Linked DNA regions of Homo sapiens: region 2 is linked to region 1. The links come from fine-mapping of genetic effects on gene expression. A gene starts in region 1. The other region holds a variant in brackets. All regions are shown on one strand. Distances are between the middles of the regions.

Region 1 (15,204 bases):
CACCACCCCACTGTCCCGGCTCTGAGGCCCAGGGTCCAGCTGTGGATGGCCGGCTCTCCCAGCCTCTGGGCCTCCTGCCCAAGGGACTCACGTCGTCATTGAAGCCCATGTGCATTCCACAGTCCAGCATGACATTCTTGCCCGCAATGGAGACCAGGATGCAGCTTCGGCCCACGTCCTGGCCGGCCCCTACTCGAGGGAGGGCAGATGAGTCACTGCTGCGCCCCCCGCCCCCTGTGCTGCCTCCCCAAGCTCTGCAGGACCCCAGTGCACTGAGGAAACCGGACCAAGTCTGCTGTGTGGACAGACACATGGGCCAAGAAGCAGGGCCACCCCTACTCACAGGAAGGGGGACACAGGGGACCATGCCCCACACCATCATGTCCAGGGTGGAGGCTGGCAGCCCACACGCCCTCCCCCGCCAGCTTCCCCTGGCCTCTTAAGGTGGCCACGGCCTGCTGGCTAAGTAGTGGGCACTGTGCTGTGGCCCTCAGCCTCCAACAGAGACAACGGCTGGTCTGTGGGGCCAACACCTCGGTCAGAGTCACTCCTGGGCTGTGGCTGGACCCCCAGCAGAGCTGCAAACCAATGAGGCCACCTTCTCCAGGATCTTTCCCCAGGCAGGCAAGGCAGTAAGTGACTAAGTGCTGGCACTGGGTGTTCTCTGGTGGTGCGGCTGTGGAGGGGCGCCACACAGCCTCAGCCATGCCATAGCGAACACGGTGCCAGTGGTCCAGCAGTGGCCAGCGTGGCAACACGAGCCTCACACCACTGCACACCATGCAGCCCCCAACACAGACCCTCATCTGCAGCCCTCCCACACTCCTGACAGCCAAGCAGCCCTGCCCAGCTGCTCCAGCCAGAGGCCTTGGCCAGCCAAGGCACACTCAGCCCCCTCATGTGGCCTGGGGGCCCGAGAGGAAAGGGTCACGGCCCCTGCACAGACTGTGCCTGGGCAGGAGTCTGATGGCAGTGAACAGTTTTCCCCTTGAATCCCACCCACCTCCCCCTGCCAGCCACTCGAAGTGTCCAAAGCCAGCACCACACATCAGGATGACGGGGCCACAGCCGAGGGGCTGCCTGCCACAGAGAGGGGATCTCAGGTTCTCTTCCAGGCCTGTTCCTGCCCCCGCTGGGTGTGAGCTCTCTGAGAGCAGGGTCTCAGCTGTCTCCTCCCTCTGCATCTCCTACCCCAAGCCACGCCAGGCTCACAGAGGCCCTCTGGCACCTGTGGGAAGGGAGGGCCGCCCCTCTTCATGCCCAGGGACCTAAGGCCACAGAGGCACTTGTGGCACACGGCCCCGAGGCATGGGGCCCGGGCTGGTTTTCTGAATTCCAAAGCCCAGTCCTGAAGTACTGGCAGTCCCGCCTCCCGACAGGACCCACAGTGATCCCAGGAAGGAAAGTGGAAAGGTGCGGGAATAGAGCCTGGAGATACACGAGGGGACAGGGCTCAGAAGACAGGAGGAGATATCCCTGTCAGCAAGGAGACAGACGGCAGACAAACAAGACACCCAAAGCACGCCAGACGAAGGTTACTATGACAGAAAAGAGCAAGGTGAGAGAATGAGGAAGCCTCAAAACTTCCAGAACCATGACAGGAGACTGCTCCGAGAAGCCAACTTTTGAGCAGGGGAGGGGAGGGGTAGGGTGGGGGAGGGGGAGGGACGGGGTGGGGAAGGGATGGTCCAGGGGAGGAGAAGAAGCGGGGCGGGCGGAGGGAGGACAGGCAGCAGGGAGGGACAGGCAGGGGGGAGGGAAGGGACCAGCAGGGGGAGGGACGGGCAGGGTGGGTGGGGGGACCGGCGGTGGGGAGGGATGGGCAGGGTGGGTAGGGGGACCGGCGGCGGGGGGGGTAGCCACACACAGGCCAAGGCGTGGGAGTGACCCCAAGGACACAGCAGTGGTCCAGTGAGCGCGGACACGGAGCCCGAGGCAGTCCCTGGTGCAGGGAAGCGGTGAAACAGGACTTCGGCTTTGATGATACCTTGGCTGAGGTGACCTTGAGAATATACCCAGGTACAGATTGCGGGTAATTGAAGCCACATGAAAGATCAGAAAGATCAGATGTCCAGAGAGTGGGCAGAACAGGCAGCCAAGAGGCCAAATGGGAAAGGGGCAGGCTGGGAGGACCCCACGGAGGACCCAGAGAGCAGGGGAGGGCAGTGGGGCCCATGCAAACAGCTGCAAAATGCCATGGGGTGTGCACAGGCCAGGGGTGTTCACAGCACAGTGTCCACACCGGGGCGGGGGGCACCCTCCGAGGAAGCGCTCACGCCATGGGGGAGGACATGGAATCCCGTCCTGGTGTCTGTGCTGGAAGGTGCCCTCGACCCCCTGCCCGGTGGAAGGACCAGGTTCCAGGACAGCACAGGGCAGGCACCTGTGGAAAACGCTAAGGACATCAGGATGACTGGCCACCAACACCATGTCCCTCCAGCTGTTTCTGAGACCCTGGATTTTGACTAATTTTTTCCTTCTTCACATCGTTCTATACTGTTACGACTTTGACTTTCTTTTGAGACATGGTTTTGCTGTCACCCAGGCTGGAGTGCAGTGGCACAATCATGGCTCACTGCAGCCTCAACCTCCTGGGCTCAAGCAATCCTCACAACTCAGCCTCCCAAGTAGCTTGAACCACAGGCACACACCACCACGCCCTGCCAATTTTAGCATTTTTTTTTTTTGGAGTGATGGGGTCTTGCCATGTTGGCTAGGTTGGTCTTGAACTCCTGGGCTCAAGCGATCCTCCCACCTCTGCCTTCCAAAGTGCTGTGATTGCAGGCGTGAGCCACAGTGCCCAGACTGTCAGGACTTTTAGGAGTACATATTTGCGTTTTTTGCTATTTTTTTCAGTGTTGCAGAAATCAGGTAGAACAAGAGCTAAAGTGAGAGTTGATTGTAACTCGGGCGTGAGCACACAGAGTGGTGGACAGAAAGCAAGACGTGAGGAGGCAGAAGCGGGGCTGGGGGGCTGAGGGGCTTGCGGGGTTAAGGGGCTTGGGGGCTGGGGGACTGGGGGGCTGAGGGGCTGGGGGGCTGAGGGTCTGGGGGTCTGCTGGGCTGAGGGGCTGGGGGACTGAGGGGCTGGGGGACTGAGGGTCTGCTGGGCTGAGGGTCTGGGGGACTGGAGCGCTGGGGGGCTGGGGGGCTGAGGGACTGAGGGGCTGAGGGGCTGGGAGGCTGAGAGGCTGGGGAGCTGGGGGGCTGAGGGTCTGCGGGGCTGAGGGGCTGGGGGGCTGGGGGGCTGAGGGGCTGGGGGGCTGAGGGGCTGGGAGGCTGAGAGGCTGGGGAGCTGGGGGGCTGAGGGTCTGCGGGGCTGAGGGGCTAAGGGACTGAAGGGCTGGTAGGGCTGGAGGCGGCAGCGCGCGGCACGGGGAGGTCAAGGCACCGACGAAAGCGCACAGCGAGCGCGAAGGCCCCGCGGCCCCATCTGCGACGTCCCCTCACGGCCGCCTGAACCTCGGGGCTCGCGTTCTCGCGTCACTGCCGGAGGCCCGGGGTGCAGGGACTAGGCCGCCTCTCGGCTCCCACCAGGGCCCGCGCGGGGAGGAGACCGGAGGACGCCCGCGGCGCGCACCTGGCTCCACGAGAAACGGGAGGGAGCGGGGCGCCCAGCCCGCCCGGAGCCGCATACGGAGCCCACCCCACAGCCCTCCCGGCGGCTCCCACTCACCCAAGGGCGTGACTCTGATCTCAGGCATCGTCTCCGCCGCGCTCCCGGACCCGCGAGGCCCGCCTGCGGTGATGCACTGCGCAGGCGCAACCACCTCGCTGCAACTTCCGGTGCGCTAGCCGGAAACGCGGGTCGGGGCGCCGGGCCTCCTGATTGGGCAGCATCCAACCAATCAGGGCGGCGGGCGAGGGCGGGGCGAGGGCGGGGCGGTGGGCGGGGACGGGGCCCGCACGGCGGCTACGGCCTAGGTGAGCGGCTCGGACTCGGCGGCCGCACCTGCCCAACCCAACCCGCACGGTCCGGAAGTCGCCGAGGGGCCGGGAGCGGGAGGGGACGTCGTCCTAGAGGGCCGGAGCGGGCGGGCGGCCGAGGACCCGGCTCCCGCGCAGGACGGAGCCGTGGCTCAGGTCGGCCCCTCCCCAACACCACCCCGGGCCTCCGCCCCTTCCTGGGCCTCTCGGTGGAGCAGGGACCCGAACCGGTGCCCATCCAGTCCGGTGCCATCTGAAGCCCCCTTCCCAGGTGAGACTCGTAGCGCTCGCTCGACAGGGTCTGGTCCCACCCACAAGGCCTGGGGCGCCGTGGGGCCCCGTCTCCTGCTGGCCCCCCAGCCTGCTGTCAGCCCCCGTGCTCTGTGCTCAGGCCGCCCTCGCGCCCGGCCCTGACCTTGGGCCGTTGGGCTGCCCTGGGAAAGGCCTGGAGGTGTCCTGGGTCACCTTCCTGGGCTGGCAAGCTGCCTGCCTCCTGCACAGCCACTGCCCTTCCTGTTGTTACCGAGCCACCAGCCACAGCTCTGAGAAGCTCCTGGCAGCTTCTGTTTGCCACTGGCTCGAATCTGGGCAGGAAGGCAAGGCCCGCAGAATATCTGGTGACCAAGAAGGAAACCCCAGAGCCTCAGAGACCATCTTCTCAGTGGACAAAATTAAGGCCCGAGGAGGGGAGGGGCGTGCTGGAAGTCTATGGGACTGCATCTTTCTGAGGCCCAGGAGCAGCCATCCCCCACACCTGAAGCCCGGTGAGCTCACATCTGGGGCCTCCGCCTGGTGCCAAGCATGCAACCCAACCTGTGGGGCCTGCAACGCCAGGCTTCAGCACCCTGCAGGCACCAGTGCTCCAGCAGCCTGGGCCACGGGCTGGGCAGGGCTTGCAGCCCATGATCCCTAGTGATGAAGGGCCCAGTCCTAGGGTGCTGAGCAACCTGCCCACCTGCTCCTGGCCAGGAGCTCTCACCACGGCTGGGTGCCCTTCCCCCTCCCCCACCGATGGAGTCCCTGCAGCCAGGGAGGCCAGGACAGGGCTCCCAGCACCAACCGGCCTAGGAACCCCCAGGCCCTCTTCCTGGTCGAGGTGGAATGCAGCTGACTCTCAGGTTCCCCAGAGCAGGTGCGGGCCCGTGGGGCACCCGGGGAGACAGGGCAAGGGTGCTTGGCAACACTCACACAAAGCATGGGTGCCTGGATGTCTGTGGATCTGTGGAGTGACTATGTGAATGCCAGCAGAATCCAAAGCAGGGCCTGGGCCACTCGTGGAAGGCTCCCTAGGGCTAGTACAAGAGCCTCGTGGCAATCTTCTGAGTGGTAAAACCCATCTGTGTGGGACATGGAGTTTCAGCAACAGGAGTGAAAACACGTGTCCATCCATCCAGCAAGTGCCAGCCCTACAGCCTCTTTTCTGCTTTTGGGGATGTAGCAGTGAGGAAGATGGGGCAGCCTGCCCGGCAGCATCCCCCCACCCCCGGCCCCACCTGTCTCTGCTTTCTGCTGTGTCTGTTTTCTTGTCTAGGACTTCAGAACTTCCTGTCTTTGTTGTCATCTGACCCCACCCCAGATGGCTGCTCGCACTCCCCATGCACCCAGATAGATGGCTAGGATGGTGCTTGGCTCTCGGCAGGGGCTTAGTATTTCTCCAGCTGGTAAAAGCAGATACAGCATCTAGAGAGAGAAACAAAAACAAGAAAGCACCAGCAGAGACACCTGCTGCAGACAGCGGGGCCTAGTGGTCTGATAAAGCCAGAGGGGGCCACTCTCGGGGTCAGGGACTGACACGGAGTCAGTGGCCTGATCCACAGGAGGGGCTGTGCCAAGGTCCCTGAATGCGCAATCCTGATGAAGGGTGGGTCAGGGTGGTGTGCCTGAGAGCCTGCGGCTTGGCTGGGAGCAGAGCCAGGCAGCTCCTGGGAGGAAGCTCCATGAGGGGCATGAGTGTTCAGTGAGCGGCAATGGGATCGCAGCTATTTTGTTCCCCTCCACACACAGAAAATGAGCCACAGAGCAAGCTGACCCCAGCGACACAGCCCCCCAGCCCTACTGTATTTCCGTTCCTATCAAAAAATGGATGACTCGGAGACAGGTTTCAATCTGAAAGTCGTCCTGGTCAGTTTCAAGCAGTGTCTCGATGAGAAGGAAGAGGTCTTGCTGGACCCCTACATTGCCAGCTGGAAGGGCCTGGTCAGGTGCGTGTGCCAGGGCTGCCTCCTGAGGTGGGCGCTCCCCTGGCCCGAGTCCCATATGTGGCATCTGCCTCCCGACTGCCTGTCCCCACCAGCTTTGCTGCCCGTTTCCAGATGGGTGTGAGCCCCCGCAGGCTGGGCAGCGTCCCCTGCACCCCAGGCGGGCTGCCCCAGGCCTGGGCGAGGACTCGAGCCCCGCTCCCTTCCACAGGTTTCTGAACAGCCTGGGCACCATCTTCTCATTCATCTCCAAGGACGTGGTCTCCAAGCTGCGGATCATGGAGCGCCTCAGGGGCGGCCCGCAGAGCGAGCACTACCGCAGCCTGCAGGCCATGGTGGCCCACGAGCTGAGCAACCGGCTGGTGGACCTGGAGCGCCGCTCCCACCACCCGGAGTCTGGCTGCCGGACGGTGCTGCGCCTGCACCGCGCCCTGCACTGGCTGCAGCTGTTCCTGGAGGGCCTGCGTACCAGCCCCGAGGACGCACGCACCTCCGCGCTCTGCGCCGACTCCTACAACGCCTCGCTGGCCGCCTACCACCCCTGGGTCGTGCGCCGCGCCGTCACCGTGGCCTTCTGCACGCTGCCCACACGCGAGGTCTTCCTGGAGGCCATGAACGTGGGGCCCCCGGAGCAGGCCGTGCAGATGCTAGGCGAGGCCCTCCCCTTCATCCAGCGTGTCTACAACGTCTCCCAGAAGCTCTACGCCGAGCACTCCCTGCTGGACCTGCCCTAGGGGCGGGAAGCCAGGGCCGCACCGGCTTTCCTGCTGCAGATCTGGGCTGCGGTGGCCAGGGCCGTGAGTCCCGTGGCAGAGCCTTCTGGGCGCTGCGGGAACAGGAGATCCTCTGTCGCCCCTGTGAGCTGAGCTGGTTAGGAACCACAGACTGTGACAGAGAAGGTGGCGACCAGCCCAGAAGAGGCCCACCCTCTCGGTCCGGAACAAGACGCCTCGGCCACGGCTCCCCCTCGGCCTATTACACGCGTGCGCAGCCAGGCCTCGCCAGGGTGCGGTGCAGAGCAGAGCAGGCAGGGGTGGGGGCCGGGCCTGCAAGAGCCCGAAAGGTCGCCACCCCCTAGCCTGTGGGGTGCATCTGCGAACCAGGGTGAAGTCACAGGTCCCGGGGTGTGGAGGCTCCATCCTTTCTCCTTTCTGCCAGCCGATGTGTCCTCATCTCAGGCCCGTGCCTGGGACCCCGTGTCTGCCCAGGTGGGCAGCCTTGAGCCCAGGGGACTCAGTGCCCTCCATGCCCTGGCTGGCAGAAACCCTCAACAGCAGTCTGGGCACTGTGGGGCTCTCCCCGCCTCTCCTGCCTTGTTTGCCCCTCAGCGTGCCAGGCAGACTGGGGGCAGGACAGCCGGAAGCTGAGACCAAGGCTCCTCACAGAAGGGCCCAGGAAGTCCCCGCCCTTGGGACAGCCTCCTCCGTAGCCCCTGCACGGCACCAGTTCCCCGAGGGACGCAGCAGGCCGCCTCCCGCAGCGGCCGTGGGTCTGCACAGCCCAGCCCAGCCCAAGGCCCCCAGGAGCTGGGACTCTGCTACACCCAGTGAAATGCTGTGTCCCTTCTCCCCCGTGCCCCTTGATGCCCCCTCCCCACAGTGCTCAGGAGACCCGTGGGGCACGGAACAGGAGGGTCTGGACCCTGTGGCCCAGCCAAAGGCTACCAGACAGCCACAACCAGCCCAGCCACCATCCAGTGCCTGGGGCCTGGCCACTGGCTCTTCACAGTGGACCCCAGCACCTCGGGGTGGCAGAGGGACGGCCCCCACGGCCCAGCAGACATGCGAGCTTCCAGAGTGCAATCTATGTGATGTCTTCCAACGTTAATAAATCACACAGCCTCCCAGGAGGGAGACGCTGGGGTGCACTGGGTGCCTGATTTCCTGCAGGGGGACACAGGGGCACCCAGTGAGGGTGGGGAGGGCCCTCACCCCAGGGACACAGCTGAGGTGGGTGCACCTAACTCCAAGGGAGCTGAGGCCCCACTGCCAGGCTCAGGGGGCTGTGTTAGCCCCAGGGCTCAACAAACACCCTGAGAAAAGGCCAGCCTTGGAGGCAGGGCTGCTGTGTGCCCATTCTCCCAGAGAGGTCCCATCACTATGCCTGTTGTACAGGTGAGACAAGAGAGAGACAGAGTCACCCAGAACCAAGAGGCTGGGTTGGGAGGACGGTTGGGAGGGCAGACATCCGCCTCTCCATGCAAAAGAGGAGAGGCCTGCGTGGGATGTGTGCGTGGAGGTGGGGGCCACTCCCAGCCACAACAGTGGCCTGGACAGAAAGGGGATGCAATTCAGCAGAGTCTTCCTGGATGTCACCCCCACCTCAGGGTCTGTGGGAGCTGCATATGGTGCCGGCAAAGGCTGCCGACTGCAGTATGGGCCGGGAGAACTGCCTGGGTCTGCGTGGGCCCCAGGGCAGGGCTCCCTCCGGGTGTTGCCTTCTGTACAAGTGCCATGCTTGTGCCGTTTGCGTGTCCCAAGTGCGAGTGTGCTATTTGCGTGTGCCGCACGTGTGCCGTTTGCATGTGCTGTTTGCATGTACCATGTGCATGTGTGCCATCTGTGCAATGTGCAGGTGCCAGTTGCATGTGCCATGCGTGTTGGCCGTGAGCGTGTGCTGTTTTCGTGTATGTGCCATGCACGTATGTGCTGCGTGTTGGCCGTGCACGTGTGCCACGTGCATGTGTGCCATTTGTGTATGCCGTGTGTGCTGTGAGCGTATGCTGTGCGCATGTGCGTGCCATGTGCTTTGCGTGTACCATGTGTGTGCTGTTTGCATGTGCCATTTGTGTCATGCACGTGCCATTTGCGTGCGATGCGCGTGTGCCACACGTCGTTTGCTTGCGTGCCATGCATGTGTGGCATTTGTGTATGTGCCGTTTCCGTGTGTATTGTGTGTGCCGTGTGTGTGCCATTTGCATGTGCCGTTTTGTGTGTGCCATGCGCGTGTGCCATGCACTTGCCGTGCGTGTGCCATTTGTGTGTACCATGCGCATGTGCCATTCGTGTGCACCGTACACGTGTGCCATTTGCATGTATGCTGTGCACGTGTGGCATGCATGTGTGCCGTTTGCATGCCATGCATGTGTTCCTTGCGTGTGCCGTGCGTGTCCCATGCACGTGTGCCGTGCATGTGCCATTCGCGTGTACCATGCGCATGTGCCGTTTGTGTGTGTGCCGCATTCCTGTGCTCGTGTGCCAGGTTCGCATGTGCGCCATATTCACGTGTGCTCAGCATGTGCCATATGCATGTGCGGTGGTAGTGTGTGTCCCTCACAGGTCCTCCTCACAACACCATGGGGAAGAAGCACCAGCCAGGGCACACCTCCTGGTATCTGCTAGGTCTGCCAGGCCCTAGCTGAAGCTGAGTGCCCCCCAGTTCCCCTGGGAGGGCCTGCGCCTGGAGTCTGCTGTGTCCCCGAGGGCACCCCCAAAGCAACACAGAGGCAGAGGAGTCCCGGCCCTGCACACCTGGTGCTGCTCCAGCTGCCGCTCATTTGCCTGTGGCCCTTCCTCCCTTGTTTGCGTGCCCCCCTGGCAAACAAACTCTACCCCCAGCAGGAGCCACCTGTGTGCCTGCCACGCAGGAGTGGCCCAGACGGGGGTCAGCAGTGTGAGTACAGCTGGCCATGCGGTTCCTACAGCTTCCAGGCGTCAGACTCTGGCAGAAGGGCTGAGACCCTCAAGGAACTCTGCTCCCAAGCAGACTGGGAGGGCAGCACCACCACCCCAGGGCCCTCCCCAGCTGCAGGGTGGAGGCCTGGCTGGCCGGCTGCCCACTGGCCTGACTGGTCTGCAGGCCTAGGGGGCCCATCCCTGCTGCCCCCGGCTCCGGCCAGCACAGCCTTGAGTGGGAGCCAGAAGCTCCCGGGGCTGGGTAGGAGGCATTTCTGTGCTTATGAAAAGCCCCAGGGCTGGGTGTCTCTGCATCCCTCCCACGCAGCTGAGACCTCAGAGCCCTGGAGGCCCCTTTGCCCCCTCTCCTCTCCACAGCCTGCTGGGCAACTCCAGGAATCGGGGGGTGGCAAGGGGCTCAGCCACAGGCAGGGAACAAGGCCACGGCCAGCAACTGAGCAGAGCCTGCCTGCCGGTCAACGCTGGCCATAGAGCCTGGCAGTGGCCTCAGGCAGAGTCTGACGCGCACAAACTTTCAGGCCCAGGAAGCGAGGACACCACTGGGGCCCCAGGGTGTGGCAAGTGAGGATGGCAAGGGTTTTGCTAAACAAATCCTCTGCCCGCTCCCCGCCCCGGGCTCACTCCATGTGAGGCCCCAGTCGGGGCAGCCACCTGCCGTGCCTGTTGGAAGTTGCCTCTGCCATGCTGGGCCCTGCTGTCCTGGGCCTCAGCCTCTGGGCTCTCCTGCACCCTGGGACGGGGGCCCCATTGTGCCTGTCACAGCAACTTAGGATGAAGGGGGACTACGTGCTGGGGGGGCTGTTCCCCCTGGGCGAGGCCGAGGAGGCTGGCCTCCGCAGCCGGACACGGCCCAGCAGCCCTGTGTGCACCAGGTACAGAGGTGGGACGGCCTGGGTCGGGGTCAGGGTGACCAGGTCTGGGGTGCTCCTGAGCTGGGGCCGAGGTGGCCATCTGCGGTTCTGTGTGGCCCCAGGTTCTCCTCAAACGGCCTGCTCTGGGCACTGGCCATGAAAATGGCCGTGGAGGAGATCAACAACAAGTCGGATCTGCTGCCCGGGCTGCGCCTGGGCTACGACCTCTTTGATACGTGCTCGGAGCCTGTGGTGGCCATGAAGCCCAGCCTCATGTTCCTGGCCAAGGCAGGCAGCCGCGACATCGCCGCCTACTGCAACTACACGCAGTACCAGCCCCGTGTGCTGGCTGTCATCGGGCCCCACTCGTCAGAGCTCGCCATGGTCACCGGCAAGTTCTTCAGCTTCTTCCTCATGCCCCAGGTGGGCGCCCCCCACCATCACCCACCCCCACCCAGCCCTGCCCGTGGGAGCCCCTGTGTCAGGAGATGCCTCTTGGCCCTTGCAGGTCAGCTACGGTGCTAGCATGGAGCTGCTGAGCGCCCGGGAGACCTTCCCCTCCTTCTTCCGCACCGTGCCCAGCGACCGTGTGCAGCTGACGGCCGCCGCGGAGCTGCTGCAGGAGTTCGGCTGGAACTGGGTGGCCGCCCTGGGCAGCGACGACGAGTACGGCCGGCAGGGCCTGAGCATCTTCTCGGCCCTGGCCGCGGCACGCGGCATCTGCATCGCGCACGAGGGCCTGGTGCCGCTGCCCCGTGCCGATGACTCGCGGCTGGGGAAGGTGCAGGACGTCCTGCACCAGGTGAACCAGAGCAGCGTGCAGGTGGTGCTGCTGTTCGCCTCCGTGCACGCCGCCCACGCCCTCTTCAACTACAGCATCAGCAGCAGGCTCTCGCCCAAGGTGTGGGTGGCCAGCGAGGCCTGGCTGACCTCTGACCTGGTCATGGGGCTGCCCGGCATGGCCCAGATGGGCACGGTGCTTGGCTTCCTCCAGAGGGGTGCCCAGCTGCACGAGTTCCCCCAGTACGTGAAGACGCACCTGGCCCTGGCCACCGACCCGGCCTTCTGCTCTGCCCTGGGCGAGAGGGAGCAGGGTCTGGAGGAGGACGTGGTGGGCCAGCGCTGCCCGCAGTGTGACTGCATCACGCTGCAGAACGTGAGCGCAGGGCTAAATCACCACCAGACGTTCTCTGTCTACGCAGCTGTGTATAGCGTGGCCCAGGCCCTGCACAACACTCTTCAGTGCAACGCCTCAGGCTGCCCCGCGCAGGACCCCGTGAAGCCCTGGCAGGTGAGCCCGGGAGATGGGGGTGTGCTGTCCTCTGCATGTGCCCAGGCCACCAGGCACGGCCACCACGCCTGAGCTGGAGGTGGCTGGCGGCTCAGCCCCGTCCCCCGCCCGCAGCTCCTGGAGAACATGTACAACCTGACCTTCCACGTGGGCGGGCTGCCGCTGCGGTTCGACAGCAGCGGAAACGTGGACATGGAGTACGACCTGAAGCTGTGGGTGTGGCAGGGCTCAGTGCCCAGGCTCCACGACGTGGGCAGGTTCAACGGCAGCCTCAGGACAGAGCGCCTGAAGATCCGCTGGCACACGTCTGACAACCAGGTGAGGTGAGGGTGGGTGTGCCAGGCGTGCCCGTGGTAGCCCCCGCGGCAGGGCGCAGCCTGGGGGTGGGGGCCGTTCCAGTCTCCCGTGGGCATGCCCAGCCGAGCAGAGCCAGACCCCAGGCCTGTGCGCAGAAGCCCGTGTCCCGGTGCTCGCGGCAGTGCCAGGAGGGCCAGGTGCGCCGGGTCAAGGGGTTCCACTCCTGCTGCTACGACTGTGTGGACTGCGAGGCGGGCAGCTACCGGCAAAACCCAGGTGAGCCGCCTTCCCGGCAGGCGGGGGTGGGAACGCAGCAGGGGAGGGTCCTGCCAAGTCCTGACTCTGAGACCAGAGCCCACAGGGTACAAGACGAACACCCAGCGCCCTTCTCCTCTCTCACAGACGACATCGCCTGCACCTTTTGTGGCCAGGATGAGTGGTCCCCGGAGCGAAGCACACGCTGCTTCCGCCGCAGGTCTCGGTTCCTGGCATGGGGCGAGCCGGCTGTGCTGCTGCTGCTCCTGCTGCTGAGCCTGGCGCTGGGCCTTGTGCTGGCTGCTTTGGGGCTGTTCGTTCACCATCGGGACAGCCCACTGGTTCAGGCCTCGGGGGGGCCCCTGGCCTGCTTTGGCCTGGTGTGCCTGGGCCTGGTCTGCCTCAGCGTCCTCCTGTTCCCTGGCCAGCCCAGCCCTGCCCGATGCCTGGCCCAGCAGCCCTTGTCCCACCTCCCGCTCACGGGCTGCCTGAGCACACTCTTCCTGCAGGCGGCCGAGATCTTCGTGGAGTCAGAACTGCCTCTGAGCTGGGCAGACCGGCTGAGTGGCTGCCTGCGGGGGCCCTGGGCCTGGCTGGTGGTGCTGCTGGCCATGCTGGTGGAGGTCGCACTGTGCACCTGGTACCTGGTGGCCTTCCCGCCGGAGGTGGTGACGGACTGGCACATGCTGCCCACGGAGGCGCTGGTGCACTGCCGCACACGCTCCTGGGTCAGCTTCGGCCTAGCGCACGCCACCAATGCCACGCTGGCCTTTCTCTGCTTCCTGGGCACTTTCCTGGTGCGGAGCCAGCCGGGCTGCTACAACCGTGCCCGTGGCCTCACCTTTGCCATGCTGGCCTACTTCATCACCTGGGTCTCCTTTGTGCCCCTCCTGGCCAATGTGCAGGTGGTCCTCAGGCCCGCCGTGCAGATGGGCGCCCTCCTGCTCTGTGTCCTGGGCATCCTGGCTGCCTTCCACCTGCCCAGGTGTTACCTGCTCATGCGGCAGCCAGGGCTCAACACCCCCGAGTTCTTCCTGGGAGGGGGCCCTGGGGATGCCCAAGGCCAGAATGACGGGAACACAGGAAATCAGGGGAAACATGAGTGACCCAACCCTGTGATCTCAGCCCCGGTGAACCCAGACTTAGCTGCGATCCCCCCCAAGCCAGCAATGACCCGTGTCTCGCTACAGAGACCCTCCCGCTCTAGGTTCTGACCCCAGGTTGTCTCCTGACCCTGACCCCACAGTGAGCCCTAGGCCTGGAGCACGTGGACACCCCTGTGACCATCTGGGCCCCAGAGCCAAGCTGTGTCCCTGTCCCTCTGTGCCCAGACCAGGCCTGCCCAGGTAACCCAGACCCACTGTTCTGGAAAGAGGCCCGGAGGGCTCCCAGGGTACCCGCAACCCACACCGTGAGCTCAGGAAAAGGACGCAGGGAGGCCCCGGCCAGATGGCTGGAAGCCCAAATCAGGCCCTGCCGACCTGACCATGTCCCACCAGGGCCCCCATCCTGCACCCTGCCAGGCACCACAGCAGTGGGAGGCCAGGTGGGGGCACACAGGCATATGCCCAGGGCAGAGCCCGCCGAGGTAGGGGTGGCACCCAGCTTCCTACTCTGCCCTTTGCCCAGTGGGTAGACAGCATCATGACTGTCACCAGTACCAGGGACAGAGCCCAGGTGGGGTGGGGGCGGGGTCCAGCACCACGGCCAGCACCGACCACCAGGACCCCGGAGCCAGCACCATGGACAGAAAACTGCCCACCAGGATCTGACGCCAGCACGCCGCCAGGCCCACACAGGGTCTCCGGTCAGAGTCCCAGGGTCAGCTCCCAGCAGGGCCTAGGGGAGGCTGGACCAGCTCCCTGTGCCTCATTCCAAGGCAGCCCAGCCGGAGAGAAGGGGCACAGGCCACACATCTGTCCCATAAAATTAAACGCTTTTTAGTGTTTAAAATAAGCAGCATTTACACAGAAGCAGCTCTATGTTAACCATCTAAACGCTGGGACTTTGATACAGTATCTACAGCACAGACACGTGGGGGCCAGAGAAGCCAGGAAGGCCGCGATGTGTGCGCGCAGTGTGTGCACTCACCAAGGACGGGCCACCTGACTGCCCATCTCCCCAAGACCTCCCTCCCTGTGGCAGCTGTGCACATCGGGGCCCCTTGACCCTGCGGGCCATGGTCCCTCCCTGCCCTGGCTGGGACACGGTGGGCAGGATGTCCAGCCCTCTCTCGTCTTCCGGTCCCGTCCTCCACGTACTTTCAGACTGTTGCCGGATGGGAGGAGAGAAGGTGCAGGCTGCTCCAAGGGGCAGCAGCAGGTGGGACAGATGACAGGGTCGCCTCCTCCCCCGAGTCACCGGCCAGGCAATAAATAAATAAATTAGATCCCTACTCCAGACAGGGGGCCTGTGCACCGCAGGGGGTTGCCCCGCATGGACCACCCTGGGGGCCTGGGCACAGCTGTGCAGGAGGTGGGGGTCAGCCGAGAGCCCGAGGGGGTCTTCCTCATCCCAGGAGGGATCCCCACCAGACACAAGGGGTTGGGAGGTCCGAGGCTCTCGCTGAGGGGCAGAGAGGGAGCGCCCCCAACACGGCTGCTCAGACACAGGTGCTGTCAGGAGCTGGAGCAGCCAGGCTGCCAGGGCAGATGGTGGTGGTCCAGCCTGCCCCCCACCCTGCCTCCCGTCCTGGCCCCCACGAAGGCAAGCCCACGCGAGCTCTGCATGCGGCAGGACCGCCAGCTCCC
Region 2 (15,285 bases), 67 kb after region 1:
CCACCCCGGTATCGGCCTCCTGGGTGCGCCCTGAGGCACACACCTCCTCTTAGGAGACGCTGATCGGGATGGGGACCTCGAGTAGCTCTGCTCACGGCTCCGGCTCCGACTCCGACTCTCTCGCCCCTTTGGCAAGCTGTGAACAGGACAGGAGCCAGTTACAAAGCAGAAGTCCCTCCAGCCAACCCTGACAGCCACCTGGGCAGCCCTGGGGTCCTACCCGTTCACGGGGCTGTCCGCCTTGGCTTTCTTGGCGCCCTCCAGCCTCCTCTTGGTGTTCTTCACAGACAGTGGGGAAGGCTTGCTCCCTTTACCTTCTTTGGGGGATTCCACTAGAATCAGAACAAGAGGTTAAAAGCCAACCACAAAACACTCTCCCAATAAGAAACAAGTTCGTAGAGCGAGATAAGGCCCCTCTACAGGTCAAACAGCGACGCAAGCAGACTGTAACTTCCGGCTCCCAGCTGGGACCCAGAACTTACACAGACATCACAGAAATGCAGATGGGGCTGGACGCGGGGGCTCACGCCTGTGAGCCCAGCACTTCGGGAGGCCGAGGAGGGCGGATCACAAAGTCAATACATTGAGACCATCCTGCCCAACATGGTGAAACCCCATCTCTACTAAAACTACAAAAATTAGCTGGGCTTGGTGGCACGCGCCTGTAGTCCCAGCTACTCCAGAGGCTGAAGCAGAAGAATCGCTTGGACCCAGGAGGCGGAGGTTACAGTGAGCCGAGATCACGCCACAGTACTCACCTGGCAACACAGCGAGACTCTGTCTCAAGAAAAACAAAACAAAACAAAAAAACCCCAAAACATGTGAGTGTGTGTCTCTCTCTCTCTCTCTCTATATATATATATACATAGACACACACTCACACACAAATTACCTGAGCGTGGTGGTGGGCGCCTGCAATCCCAGCTACTTGGGAGGCTGAGGCACAAGAATCACCAGAATCTGGTAGGCGGAGCTTGCAGTGATCCCAGATAGCGCCACTGCACTCCAGGCTGGGCAACAGAGTAAGACTCCGTCTCAGAAAAAAAAAAAAAAAAAAAAAAGCTGGGTATAGTGGCTCCCACCTGTAATCCCAGCACTTTGGGAGGCCAAGGCGGGCAGATCAACTGAGATCAGGAGTTCAAGACCAGTCTGACCAAAATGGAGAAACCCCATCTCTACTAAAAATACAAAATTAGCTCAGTGTGGTGGCGGGTACCTGCAATCCCAGCTACTTGGGAGGCTGAGGCAGGAGAATCGCTTGAACCCGGGAGGCAGAGGTTACAGTGAGCTGAGACAGCGCCATTGCACTCCAGCCTGGGTAACAAGACAGAAACTCTGTCTCAAAAAAAGAAATGCAGGCCGGGTGCAGTGGCTCATGCCTGTAATCCCAGCACTTTGGGAGGCCGAGGCGGGTGGATCACGAAGCCAGATTGAGACCATCCTGGCTAACACGGTGAAACACCATATCTACTAAAAATACAAAAAATTAGCCAGGCGTGGTGGCGGCCACCTGTAGTCCCAGCTACTCAGGAGGCTGAGGCAGGAGAATGGCATGAACCCGGGAGGTGGAGCTTGCAATGAGCTGAGATCGCACCACTGCACTCCAGCCTGGACGACAGAGCGAGACTCCATCTCAAAAAAAAGAACTGCAGACAGGCCCTTTGCATCACACTGAACTCTAGGTCTGATGACGTGTATCATCTATGGCCCCACACTATAACACCTTCATCAGATGACAAGCTACCTGGGCAGCAGGATAAACAAAAGCATTTCAGACAACCTGTCATACTCCCTGCTAATCAACAGAAAGGCCAGGTGCCTATGCTCCTAGCACTCTGGGACGCTGAGGCAGGACAATCACTTGAGGCCAGGAAATTCAAGAGCAGCCCGGCCAACATAGCAAGACCCAGACTCAACTAAAAAGATAAAGAATTAGCTAAGCACAGCTGGGCACGGTGGCTCACGCCTGTAATCCCAGCACTTTGGGAGGCTGAGGTGGGCAGATCACGAGGTCAGGAGATCGAGACCATCCTGGCTAACCTGGTGAAACCCCGTCTCTACTAAAAATTCAAAAAATTAGCCAGGCGTGGTGGCGGCCACCTGCAGTCCCAGCTACTCAGGAGGCTGAGGCAGGAGAATGGTGTGAACTCAGGAGGCGGAGCTTGCAGTGAGAGGAAATTGCGCCACTGCACTCCAGCCTGGGCTGGAGCAAGACTCTGTCTCAAACAAAAAGAATTAGCCAAGCATGGTGGCATGTGCCTGTAGTCCTAGCTATGCAGAAAGCTGAGGTGGGAGGATCACTTGAATCCAGGAGTTGGAAGCTGCAGTGAGCTGCGATCACACCACCATACTCCAGCCTGGGTGACAGAGACCCTGTCTCAAAAAAAAAAAAAAAAAAAATGTCTGGAAGGAGCACATACCCCAGAATGGAGGCGGGGGAGAGTCACCAGTCTTTGCCTTTGTGGGGAGTGGATTCCTGCACTCTAACAGACTCACCCAGCTTGGGGGCAGGAGAGAACCCCGAGGTACCATCCAGCACCTGTGTGCCCCCAGGCAACAGGCCCCGGGCTTGGGCCTTTGCCTCTTCGATAGCGTGCTTTCTTTTTTCCACTTCACCCTCCAGGTGTGTGAGATCAACCTGCAAAAGCCAGAAGGTGTCCGTTCAGAACCAGGTGTTTCTGGCCAAACACAAACGCATACGTTACATGAAAAAATGCCGAAGAACCTTTTTCCGAGCATAAAGCTGCAAGATCTTTAAGCAGATTTCCTGAATTTCTTCTTCAGTTGCTCCAAACAAAAGAAACCAATGGGGACGATTGGGCAAAGGGATCTGTAAAAACAAACACTATCATCATTACACTTTCCTCAACTTCACGGCCAGCAAGACTCAGGACAATTAAAAAACAGCCTGTTGGTCACGAAAATGCTTTGGCCCAGATTAGAGTAATTTGAAGAATAACACAGTAAAGTTTACTGGAGGCTGGAGAAAAAAAAATCAGACTAGAATCTCTCCATAGTAGCAACACACTGACCTCCAGCGTCCGGGCAGCAAGATAAATGCAGGCACAGGCGATGCTCTCTGGCTGGAACCGCACGAAGACGTCGGTGCGAAGGCTGTCGTTCATGTAATTCCTGGAAGCCAAACACAGGAAGAACTGCAATGCCCCACCCGGGAACCCAGGTCTTCCGCCTGCATTATCTAGAGAAAATCTAGATAAACGTACTACTCCTCTAAGGAGTCTATTGCTAGGACTCAGAGCTAGACAGTCCTGTGAATCTCAAGAGTTAATGGAGAAATATTCTAGCTGCTTTTTCTAAATACAGTAAATACAGGACAGAAAGGCACAGAAATTATTAGAAAAAAAAAAAGCTGGCTGAATGTCAGACAATACGTGTTGCTATGAAAGAGAACCGACTTTAACTTTACTTTTCCCCTCAACCTTGGCCTGCTCTCATGCAAAGCACGATGCCTCAGAAAGAAAATGTCTACTGGAGTCACTAAAACGCTTTTGATTAAAGAAATCTAAATGCTCAAAATCCATAGTGCAGAGAAACATGCAAACTCAAATGAACTGGCTGAGCACAAAGCCGGTGTGGCTGCTGGGAGACAAGCCATCCTCTTGGGTTCCTCTTCCTCTTCCTCCAGGGCGCTGGCGGCAGGCCCCTTCTCTGCTGACCGAGCTGCAGCTTCCTTGAAGGAGTCCACTTGGAAGAGGGAAAAGCCCCTTGGGTGCAAGTTGGACGCGTGGGAGCATCGTGCGGAGGGAGACTCCGCACCCAAGGGCAGGCCTCTTCTCGGGCTCATCAGAGCCGCTGCCAACTGTCCCATTTCAACAAGGGGTCTTAAAATGAACATTCATAGAATCAGAAGCAACACAATACTGAGAAGCAACATGATACTGAGAAGCAACATAATACTGAACATTTCATCACAGTACATTCTTTAACTTTCATATTTAGAAGCTATAAACATACAAAAATTTACATTTTTTAAAAGTTAAAGCATTTAAAACCTGGCTACATTTTGAGCATTTCCTTTAGATCTCTAAGATTTAATAGACTAAAACCAGACCTTACACTAGCTTTATGAATACTGCAAAAACAGAAAGGGTGATTCCATGAGGACAGTTGAACTGGTTTTATATTTACTGCTCCTCACATACCCCAATAACGGGGAGCCTTGGAGTGGGGCTGCACCCGCAGACGAGGTGGGTTGTGAGGGAATCTGACCCATGACCTTCCAGCAATATCTCTGTCCTAAATAAACCTTGGAGAAGGTAACATACAAACCCACTCAAGAGATTTCTAAATGGGAAGTCCTACAGGTGCCTCTTGGAGACACCCGGCTCTGGAAGCAGCTCCAGGCATCACGGGGGAATCTGTGTGGCGGCCGTGTGGCCCCAGCCCCTGATGCAAGCGTGCCAGTGCACAGCTCTAACACAGATACATTCAACAATCAGTAACCTTTCGGTGTCTAATCAACAACTGTCAGTATTCAAGTAGTGATATTAATCCACGAACTTAAAATTCTTAAAAACAAATGAAATCTTGAGAACATATAAACTTATTGCTGTATTTGAAGTGATACAATATTTTTCAAAGTATCCATGAAATAATTTAAAGATGCACACCTTTTACCAGAGCGTGTCATGCAAAGCTGCTCAAAAGAGCAACTTCAGGGCTTCTAGAAATCATGACATAACCCCACACTGACACAGCCAATTTGTCTCTTCAATTCTCACAGCTTTCCATAGCATTTTTTTTTAAGAGAAAGGTACTGCATCTTTATCATACAGGTACAGCAGTTTTAAAGGGACAAAATTCAAGTCAAGACAGTTACCAACTCTAATCAATACGATTACCAAAGCACGACAGAGGATTAACAAGAAGCACAATCGTCAGAGAACCACAGCAGGAGTCGGCCATGGCTATGCTATGTGCGTACCACCAGTCTAGAGCCAGCCTTCGGTGGAGAGCCTGCACTGGATTGGCTGAAGATGCCGCTGTCCCTGCACCAAAGCGCTTGGACAGCAGAGGAGAAGTCTTAGTCACTTACCCTCAGAGGCTACCCTTTGATTGAAAGAGTACAGAAAAGAAAAGTCAAAATAGGTTCTCTATTAAACATGTCATAGCACCAGACAATTCAGTCAGCAAAAATATGACCCTTACAGACTTAACTCCATGGGAAAAAATTCACCAGAATCCCCAGAATCCCCCAAATACTACATTGCACTTTAGGGTTCCTTTCTAGCACATGCATTGCTAAAATCGGCCCCAGAACCTTCTCTGCCCCTCTCCCATGGGATGCAATGTCAGTGGAGAAACAGACCAAGTCTGCACTAGCCTGTCCCTCCACCCTCCCCAGGAAAAGGTCCCCCTGCGCCAAGTCAACAGCTCCCAGAGGAAGCCCACTGACTGCTCTCTTCAGGGTGGGGGACACAGGAAGTCCAGGCTTGCAGGGAGGGGACGGGCCACCTACCGTGACTGCCAGTGCCCATTTTGGGAGTCTGATTGGAATTTATACAGCAGGAGCACTGGGCACTCGGACAACTCCAGCCCACAACCAAGTCACTGGGCTGCCTACCCACTGCCCAAGTGCCTCAAGTCAACACATTCCTGCACTGCCCTTGCTGGTCTCATAAAACAAGGAAGCTCAACTCACCATGAGGTCTGGACCAGGTGTTGGTTACGCTCACACTCTAACACCTGAAGGTACATAACGATTATCTGGAAGATACGGGTCAGGCAGTTATTACCAAGAACCTTAAGAGCCCAGAATTCAGATCTTGTGGGTGTCCATGCAGCAAACAAGAGCCTCAAGCTAGATCCCAGGAGTGGCTCCTGGCCACACGTCTGGCGGACGGCTCAGCTGGAGGGAGCTTTGCGATTGCACCTGCTGTCTGCCTTGGCAGCCAGGCAGGACGCATGCCCGTGAGCCCAGCCACACAACCCACGGCACAGGCCTCGTTCTTCATGGGGCTGGTTTCATTCTAGTCTTCAATGCCTTTCCACCAGTGAGGTTGGCCTGTCCTACACGTCTCTGTATCCCAGTTAACAACTCACCAAAACACAATATGAACATACTTTCAGCAAACAGAGAAGAACACTTCAGGCCAGGCACACTGGCTCATGCCTATAATCCCAGCACTTTGGGAGGCTGAGGCGGGCAGATCACCTGAGGTCAGGAGTTCGAGAACAGCCTGACCAATATGGAGAAACCCAGTCTCTACTAAAAATACAAAATTAGTCAGGCATGGTGGTGCACGCCTGTAATCCCAGGTACTCAGGAGGCTGAGGCAGGAGAATCGCTTGAAACCAGGAGGCGGAGGCTGCATGAGCTGAGGTTGCGCCATTGCACTCCAGCCTGGACAACAGAGCGAGATTCCGTCTCCAAAAAAAAAAAAAAAGCACTTCAATCTGTGGTGGGCAATTTGTGGATAATTTGAACAGATGGCAGAAAGCCGAACAAGCAGATGAGGAAACCCACCAATAAAAAGGAGATGGAACCAAAGATGGAAACAATTTTTTGGGAAAACAAGTGCTTTGTTTCCATGTGACACAGAAGGCACCCACAACGCTGGGAGTGAGGGACCGTGTCACGGCCATGGTCCTCAGTCAGTACATGCCGCAAAACTCGCCAGTCATTTCAGACTAAAGGGGCCAGAATTCCCCTAATTTCTCCATAAGAGAAAGTAAAGCTATCACTAAAGCAAATGTAGAAAATTAACTGTTGAGGCTGGGTGCAGTGGCTCACACTTGTAATCCCAGAACTTTGGGAGGCCGAGGCAGGTGCATCACCTGAGATCAGGAGTTTGAGACCAGCCCGGCCAACATGACGAAACCCCATCTCTACTAAAGATACAAAAATTACCCAGGTGTGGTGGCGCATGCCTGTAATCCCAGCTACTTGGGAGGCTGAGGCACAAGAATCACTTGAACCTGGGAGGCAGAGGTTGCAGTGAGCCAAGATTGCACCACTGCACTCCAGCCTGCATGACAGAGTAAGACTCCGTCTCAAGAAAAAAAAAAAAAAAAAAAAAAAAGGCCAGGCACAGTGGCTTATGCCTGTAATCCCAGCACTTTGGGAGGCCAAGGTGGGAGGATCACGAGGGCAAGAGATGAAGACCATTCTGGCCAACATGGTGAAACCCCGTCTCTACTAAAAATACAAAAATCAGCTCGGCGTGGTGGCACGTGCCTGTAGTGCCAGCTACTCAGGAGGCTGAGGCAGGAGAATGGCTTGAAGCCGGGAGGTGGAGGTTGTGCCTCCACTGCCACTGCCACCATGCCACTGCACTCCAGCCTGGCGATAGAGCGAAACTCCATCTCAAAAAAAAAGAAAACAAAAAAAAATTAACTGTAGAGAAAGGAAAACATAAACTAAAATTCAACATTTATAAACTCACCACTATTTTTGAAAGCCCAAACTTAAATAATACCATTTCCAAAACACTTAAAAATGTGTTACTAAAATAAACAGCTGACACTAGAAGACGAATACGTCAGGAACTATTCTTGAGATTATAAATAGAAACTGGAAAGCCAAGTCAGGGATGCACTCAGTCCTCTTCAGAGCCTTCAACTGCACTGAGGTGGAGAGAGGCGGCCAGGCAGGAGCAGCGGCCTAGGCGGGCTCGCAGGGCAGGAGCCGCACACCCACCTTATGAGGATGCTTCACATGGACGCAGAAACCCAACTCTTTGAGAACTCGTCTTTCCGCCTTTATAATTTGGTTCTTTAAATTAACATAATCTTGATCCAGTAGTAGAGGCACGGGCTTCCTGCCAGAGAGAGAGCACAGGGTCTGCACCACAGTCAAGCAGAGCAAGGCTTCTGAGATCCCGTCGTTACCTCCAACTATGAGCACCTAACACAAACCCCACAACACAACATCGCTATGAAGTCCACATCCTCTGATGAACAAAACTGCACACCGCTCCCCACAGCCCAGTGCCAACCTCCTCATCCCTTCCCAACGATCCCTCCCTGCTTTTCCTTATAGATCAACAGCTTCTGGTGCACAAGCATAGACCGAACATAGCAAGTTTTAGGATCTCGTGGCACAAATGCTAAAGCACTTTATGTGACTCACGATAGGAAGGTACATATTCACAGTTCAATAACCACAGAACCAATGAAAGCACAATTATTTAAATACAGATGGGCCAGGTGCAGTGGCTCTGCCTGTAATCCCAGCACTTTGGGAGGCGAGGCAGGCAGACTGCCTGAGCTCAGGAGTTCAAGACCAGTCTGACCAACATGGTGAAACCCTGTCTCTACTAAAAAAATGCAAAAATTAGCCGGGCGTGGTGGCGGGTGCTTGTAATCCCAGCTACTCAGGAGGCTGAGGCAGGAGATTCACTTGAACCCAGGAGGCGGAGGTTTCAGTGAGCCGAGATCGCATCACTGCACTCCAGCCTGGGTGACACGGTGAGACACAGTGAGAGTCCGTCTCAGAAAAAAAAAAAAAAAAAAAGGGCTGGGTGCAGTGGCTCACACCTGTAACCCCAGCACTTTGGGAGGCCGATGAGGCCATGTTTTTTCTTTTTTTGAGATGGAGTCTCACTCTGTTGCCCAGGCTGGAGTGCAGTGGCGCGCTCTTGGCTCACTATAACCTCCACCTCCCAGGTTCAAGCAATTCTCCTGCCTCAGCCTCCCAAGTAGCTGGTATTACAGGCATGCACCACCACGACCAGCTAATTTTATATTTGTAGTAGAGATGGGGTTTCTACATGTTGGTCAGGCTGGTCTCGAACTCCCGACCTCAGATGATCCACCCGCCTTGGCCTCCCAAAGTGCTGGGACTATAGGCGTGAGCCACTGCGCTCGGCAAGGCTGTTTTTTTTTTTTTTTTTTTTTTTTTTGAGACAGAGTTTCACTTTTGTTGCCCAGGCTGGAGTGCAATGGCACAATCTCAGCTCACTGCACCTCTAACTCCCCGGTTCCAGCGATTCTCCTGCCTCACCCTCCCGAATAGCTGGGATTACAGGCACCCGCAACCACACCCGGCTAATTTTTTTTTTATTTTTTTTTGAGACGGAGTCTTGCTCTGTCGCCCAGGCTGGAGTGCAGTGGCCCGATCTCAGCTCACTGCAAGCTCCACCTCCCGGGTTCACGCCATTCTCCTGCCTCAGCCTCCCAAGTAGCTGGGACCACAGGCACCCGCCACCACGCCTGGCTAACTTTTTTGTATTTTTAGTAGACGGGGTTTCACCGTGTTAGCCAGGATGGTCTCGATCTCCTGACCTCGTGATCCACCCGCCTCGGCCTCCCAAAGTGCTGGGATTACAGGCGTGAGCCACTGCACCTGGCCAATTTTTGTGTTCTTAATAGGGACAGGGTTTCACCATATTGGTTAGGCTGGTCTCGAACTCCTGACCTTAGGTGATCCACCTGCCTAGGCCTCCCAACGTGCTGGGATTACAGGCCAGCCCGGCCAGAGGCTGTGTTTTCTAAAGGACTTCAATTAACTTCAGGTGCATAAACCCTGGGCTAAGGTCAGAGGCAGCGGTTCTCTGCTGGAGAAATTTTACTATTCCAGGGCCATGAAGCAACATCAACAGACTTTCGTTTTTTTTGGAAACAGGGCCTCACCCTGTTGTCCAGGCTGGAGTGCAGTGGTGACATCACAGCTCACTGCAGCCTCAATCTCCTGGCCTCAAGCAAACCTCCTTTTTCAGTCTCCCAAGTGCTGAGATGACAGGTGTGAGCTCCCACATCTGGTATGAGAGAATTTCTGGCTGTCACATCTAAGGTGGGGTACTCCTGTCATCCAGTGAGTCGAGACCAGGGATGTTGCTGAATCCTGCAGCACACAGGAGAATCCCCTACAACTAAAGATTACCCAGCCAGATGCGGTGGCTGAAATCTGTAATCCCAGTGCTTTGGGAGGCTAAGGCCAGCAAATCCTTGGAGCCCAGGAATTTGAGACCAGCCTGGGCAACACAGCATGACCCCATCTTTACCAAATAAAAAATAAAAATTAGCTGGCATGGTTGGCGTGCTCCTATAGTCCCAGCTACTCAGGAGGCTGAGGCAGGAGAAACTCTTGAGCCTAGGAGGTTGAGGCTGTAGTGAGCCATGATCATACCACCGCACTCTGCCCTGGACAACAGGAAACCTGTCTCAGGAGGAAAAAAAAGATTATCCAGCCTGAATGTCAATAGTGCTGAGATTAAGATTCCCTGCTCCAGAGCACTCAGAAACTTGTGGGACAGAAGCAGCAGCAGGGCCGTGCACTGACATGGGTAAAGCAGGAAGCCAGCCCCAGCGCGACCCGCCACAGCGCACTGTCCTCACTGGAGCCCCTGCCCTTACTAAACCGCATCTACTGATGCCTCTGAGCAGGCTCTGTTGGTGGAGCTTGAGACTGCGCTCATGAATATCCCACAGGTTTAGAGCCTCAGGCCTGTATTGTGTTATACAAGCCTTACTGTAACTTAATCAGAAATAAAGAAAATAGGCATCTATGATAGACTAGACAGCTCTGACTGACTCACTTTTTGTCTCTCAGCTGTCGAAGGCGGTGAAACACATTGATGACGTCCCGTATGCGTCTTGGGGCCTCTTCTATCTTGGAAGCCAGGTGGACACAGGCCATTGACACATGCTGAAGCGGAAGCATTGCAACACGCCCATGTTTGTCCCCAGCCACGGCGTCCTGACGGCCGCCAAAGGCTTGAGGGCTATTCAGACCAAAAGGGAGGTGCACCCAGGGGAAAAAAAAAGTCAAGAAACAGAACCCTCCGGCACAGAGCTCAGACTGGGGGGCAAGTACTCACTCCCTTAGTAACCGGGCAAAGTAACAAACCGTTTTACCCTCAACATACTTCGCTGGGAATGAAGTGCAGGAGGAAGCCTTACCTCCATGGAGTGCTTCACGAAGGACTTGGTATAAAAGAACCGCTGGAACAACACCTGCCCGGTAGCCATGGCCACCTAGAGTAGAAGAAAGTTTCCGTATTTTCAAACGCACCATTCAAAGCCTTCGCGGCCGAAAGTCATCGAGTAACGTGGGACTCCCCACGCAGAACCAAACACTGAAACGCTTCCCACGTCCACAAAGGCTCTTCGCGTCCCGCCGTCTCGGGATCCAGCGCACTGGCGGGCGGGGAGGCCCCGGGTCAGGGGCATGGGCTGGCTAGGGAATGGCGCCGAGGCTGGGGTCGGGGCAGGGGCTGGGGTCGGGGTCTAGGCGGGGGCGGTGCGGGCCCGACTCGCCGCCAACAAAGGCGGCTGCCGCCCCAGCGGTTACCTGGGCCGGAGGCTCGCGGCCGCGCCCTCACCTGCGGCAGGCGGAGCAGGATACCGGCCGCCTGGATGAGCTCGCAGCCCACCACGCGGAGGTCGGTCTCTGTGTCG[G/C]TGTCGAGGCCGCTCGACATGGACGGCGTGAAACGGAGCTTGTCGTCAGGCAGGAGGCAGTTCTCCAAGGTGATGAGCACCCCGGAGTACAGCCTGTCCCCGATCAGCACCCCCTGCGACCCTGAGGGTGCGCCCCCAGATCCCGGGGCGCCGGCCGCTGCCGCGGGAGCTGCCGACCCTGCAGCACCAGCCGCCGCCGCCGCCGCCGCCATTTTGTGCCGCCGACTCCCCTTCGGCTTCTTCCCTCAGGGCGGCTCCTCGCGAAGCTCCACGGCCGCCACCGCCCCGCCCCGTCGCGTGCCATTGGTTCGGCCCGCGACCAGCGCGACGCCGCCTAGCCGCAATTGGCTACATAACCTGCCCGTCAGCAACGCGCCTAACGCCGACGCCGGAACCTGGCGCGGGTGGGGCGGGCTCGTTACCCAGGGGACTCCGCGGTGCCGGCCGACCCGGAAGCATGTCTGTCCCTAGCGGAGGCGCGGGTGCCGTGCTGAGAGCGCCTGCCTGTGCGCCCCGAGCGGGGCTGGGACTCTTCCAAGATGCCCACGTTCGCACAGAGACCCCGGATCGCGGAAGCTCGCGTCTCGAAAGGCCTGTGGGTCAAGGGGGGCCATCTCGGTGGGATCTGGGGCGGGACGACCCCCACTGCTGAACCCTGGGCGCGGGGCAGGGTCAGAGGCTCCGCTCGGCCTCCCCCTGGATGAGACGCGCATGCCCGGTGTCCCCCGGCCGCCGTCGGCGTCGTGTCTTCAGTCCTTATCGACTCCAGACTTTGGGGATGCGTATTAACGCCAGACTCCTGCAAAGTCTTGCCTTCAACACTCAGCCCCTGGGGAGAGACGGGTGGAGGGATGACTGGAAACGTGGCCTCGACGTCCCTACAGAGCCCCTCCAGCGTGGGGAGGCCTAAGTACCTCAAGGTTCAGGCCCACGGAAGGAGTCGGGGGAGCGAGGCCCGGTGATCTACGTGTGAAGGAGCTTGGACAGGACCTCACAAACGCCAGGGAGACGGCGAGGGGGTTCGTGCGTTTGTAACGTCTTGACATCGCTGATCCTCCCGCAGGCGGTCTCACGCCCTGCCCGTCCTGGGTTCACGGTTTTTCATCACCTGCGGCTGTCCTGCGATCGACCACAGCTGTGCAGGAGGGGCAGGAGGTATCTGTTGCTGCAGTTACCGGAACCTTTGCCAGGACTAGTACAGGACCACGGGTGAGGATGGTGGGGAAGCCTGCGTGGGGCAGGGAACGGTGAGGCAGGAAGAGGGAAGGGCAGCAGAGGCCTGAGTGGTTGCAGGTTCACACACTGAGCTGCCAGTAACTGCCCAGCTCAGACGGGCTCAAATTCAGAAGCCACCATTGCTCCTCACCCCCACCCCCAGGTCAGCTGTCCACTAGCTCTGCCATGACTTGATACTGCAGCTCAAACAGTGCCAACCAAAACCCACTCTCCTCACCGCCTGTTATGGGTAACACGGTATGGTTACAGCTTTACTCATGTCCTCTTTCCCCAGGCTGGTAGCTCAGGGATGTCTCGTCTGTGAGTTACAGCTGCACGCTCTCCAGGAAAGAAGGAATTTCCTCTTCTCTGGAAACCCCACCACACAGCTGGTTTCTCATTGGTGCTGCTTGCCCATTCCCTGAGCTGTGACTGCCAGAGGAGTGGGAGGTTGGTGGTGCCTCCAGCCCATCAGGGGCAGGCCCTGGGACCGCCTGGGAACAGGAGGACTATGGCACAAACCGAGTGAGTGATGGGAGCAACCCGCAGGGCTCTGCCACATCCCTGTCTTCCTTCACTGACATGAAACGCAGAAAAGGCAGCTTTGCCACAACACAGGAGCACGCACCGAATGTGGCCGCCCAGGGCTCTGTCCTTGACCCTGTTGTCCAGGACTGTTTACCAAGGGCTGACAGGCACTGAGTGCCCCGTGCACCTGGCCAGACACTGCACTCATGCAGCGGAAAGGACAGTGAACGAGACTTTGTCCCTGGCCTCCAAAGGCTTAGGGCGTAGTGGCTGTCATGAGGCACAGTGACAAGGGCCAGGAGGGGGACCTCTTAGGGGGCCATGCAGTGATGGAAGCCAGAAGGAATGAAGGCCTGCAGTGAGGATGGAGTGGTCGGCCTGAAGCCATCTCTAGCAAGTGGTCAGGACGCTGATTGTTCTGCGCAGGTTGGAGGTAGGTGGTGAGTCTGAGAAAGGGGCCGGAAAGACTCCCCAGCAACTGCTGGCAAAGGGTGAAGGGCACGTTCCCACAGGATTCAAGCCAGCTGCCTTTGGAGGGGAGACGGGCACTCAGTTTAGGCGCTCCTACAGCAGGGTCAGCAAGACAAGCAGGTTGCGGCAAGGGTCTGCGCACTGCTGTGTAAATGTAGGGGCATCGGGGGGCAGAAAGACCAGGGGAGAAGTGTGCATCACCCTTGGGGTTAAGGGACAGTTGTCTGCTAGGTGTTGCTTCCTGGAGATGGCTGAAAAGCCAGTCCAGTCTGCAGGGACCAGGCCACCACCCACCTGATGTGGGAGCATTTCCCCCAATCCCTGCTGGGCTGCTGAATCTGGGGGACATAGGGAAGCTGAGGCTGGTGTTCTGAGTAGTGGCAGAGCTGAGCCACAGGGCATGTCTGAGGTCAGCCCCGAGCAAAATGGAATAGGGACTCAGGGTGGGTCAGGTAACTGGAAAGCGGGCACTGTGCACGCAGCCCTTGAGGGGAGCCAGGGTGGGTGGGGATCCCCCACTGTGTGCAGAAGGCAGCAGCCTTGGAAGCAGGGTGTGCTCCTCGGTGTGGTCGCTCGATACCAGAAAATGACTCTAAAAACTGAAGAGTGTTTGAGTTTCATTCACACAAAACATGGACATCATCTGTGAGGCTCTGTCCCAGAGAGACAGGGCCATCCCTCATGTCTGTTATTGGGTTGTAGATAAACAAAAGTATAAATCAAACAAACTGCAAATTACTCTGTCTCTTTTCCTAATCAATACAGCAACAGTCCTCAGTGGTACTGCACCACTCTGGAAAAAATGCCTTCAGGTTCCTTCCCATCCCCCAAGGCAGCAGCAAATCCTTCGTGTCGCCTCCTACTGGCCAAGGCAGCCAAAGATTTGAAAGTCTTTGGCTCGTAGATGGCCAGATCCGCTAGGACTTTCCTGTTGAGCTCCACCTGGCACTGAAAAAAGAATGAATCAGAACCTGCTGTCAGTGTGAGACACACACTCCGGCTCCGCGTGGTTGCGGCGCTGGCTCAGGAAGAACCCAGCTGCACACTCGCCTGGGGGGAGGGAAGGCCTAGGAGAATCCTATCTGGGTGGCACAGCAGAGGACTTCCAGGCAGGATGCTGAAGGATAAATGTGGACACGGGTGAGGGAAGCACCTGTGGAATCTGCAGGGAGGCTGGACTCCAGTCCTGATGTCGGCCCGGGGAACCAAACACCTTGTTCAGGGTCCTTGGTCACCACCCTGACTGAGCTGACTGCTGGCCTAGGGTAACCCTTTAAGCCAACCTGGAAGTGCCTGCAAGAACCACAGAGGATTTCAGAAGCTAGTGAACAATGCCAGAGTTTAAGGAGTAGAAAAGGGGGGCCGTCTCTTTGAGCATTAAATTCAGCTACCAAGGCAGGGCACGGTGTCTCGCCTGTAATCCCAGCACTTTGGGAGGCCAAGGCAGGCAGGTCACCTGAGGTCGGAAGTTCGAGACTAGTCTGACCAACATGGAGAAACCCTGTCTGTACTAAAAAATACAAGAAAAAAAACCACAAGGCCAGGCGCGGTGGCTCATGCCTGTAATCTGAGCACTTTGGGAGGCTGAGGCAGGCGGATCACCAGGTCAGGAGATCAAGACCATCCTGGCTAACACGGTGAAACCCTGTCTCTACCAAAAATACAAAAAAATGAGCTGGGCATGGTGGTAGTCACCTGTAGTCTCAGCTA

The links.
Region 2: its variant is fine-mapped to the expression of INTS11 in tibial artery (GTEx, PIP above 0.99). The same link has a PIP of 0.9 or more in sigmoid colon.

The regions. Positions count from the first base shown.
Region 1 is chr1:1,320,905-1,336,108 of GRCh38, forward strand. It overlaps INTS11 (integrator complex subunit 11), which reads right to left and starts at 3,756. Exons shown (of 17, transcript NM_017871.6): 1 at 3,677-3,756; 2 at 92-189. The coding sequence starts at 3,704. CPTP (ceramide-1-phosphate transfer protein) reads left to right here and starts at 3,898. Exons shown (of 3, transcript NM_001029885.2): 1 at 3,898-4,198; 2 at 5,932-6,128; 3 at 6,337-7,992. The coding sequence starts at 6,007. The coding sequence ends at 6,859. TAS1R3 (taste 1 receptor member 3) reads left to right here and starts at 10,376. Exons shown (of 6, transcript NM_152228.3): 1 at 10,376-10,632; 2 at 10,734-11,034; 3 at 11,120-11,902; 4 at 12,017-12,220; 5 at 12,355-12,475; 6 at 12,602-14,410. The coding sequence starts at 10,442. The coding sequence ends at 13,560. It overlaps DVL1 (dishevelled segment polarity protein 1), which reads right to left. Exons shown (of 15, transcript NM_001330311.2): 15 at 14,374-15,204. RefSeq lists enhancers at 945-1,453, 2,217-2,726 and silencers at 3,545-3,674, 3,855-4,354.
Region 2 is chr1:1,387,734-1,403,018 of GRCh38, forward strand. It overlaps CCNL2 (cyclin L2), which reads right to left and starts at 11,602. Exons shown (of 11, transcript NM_030937.6): 1 at 11,286-11,602; 2 at 10,864-10,938; 3 at 10,500-10,609; 4 at 7,661-7,781; 5 at 5,663-5,727; 6 at 3,033-3,132; 7 at 2,726-2,830; 8 at 2,497-2,638; 9 at 221-332; 10 at 44-136. The coding sequence starts at 11,573. MRPL20 (mitochondrial ribosomal protein L20) reads right to left here. Exons shown (of 4, transcript NM_017971.4): 4 at 14,176-14,523. The coding sequence ends at 14,350. MRPL20-AS1 (MRPL20 antisense RNA 1) reads left to right here and starts at 11,797. Exons shown (of 3, transcript NR_015434.1): 1 at 11,797-11,956; 2 at 12,425-12,570; 3 at 12,872-14,313. RefSeq lists enhancers at 5,229-5,729, 12,540-13,083 and silencers at 11,315-11,494, 11,565-11,804, 12,095-12,154. The variant G/C (reference allele first, on the strand shown) is at 11,362.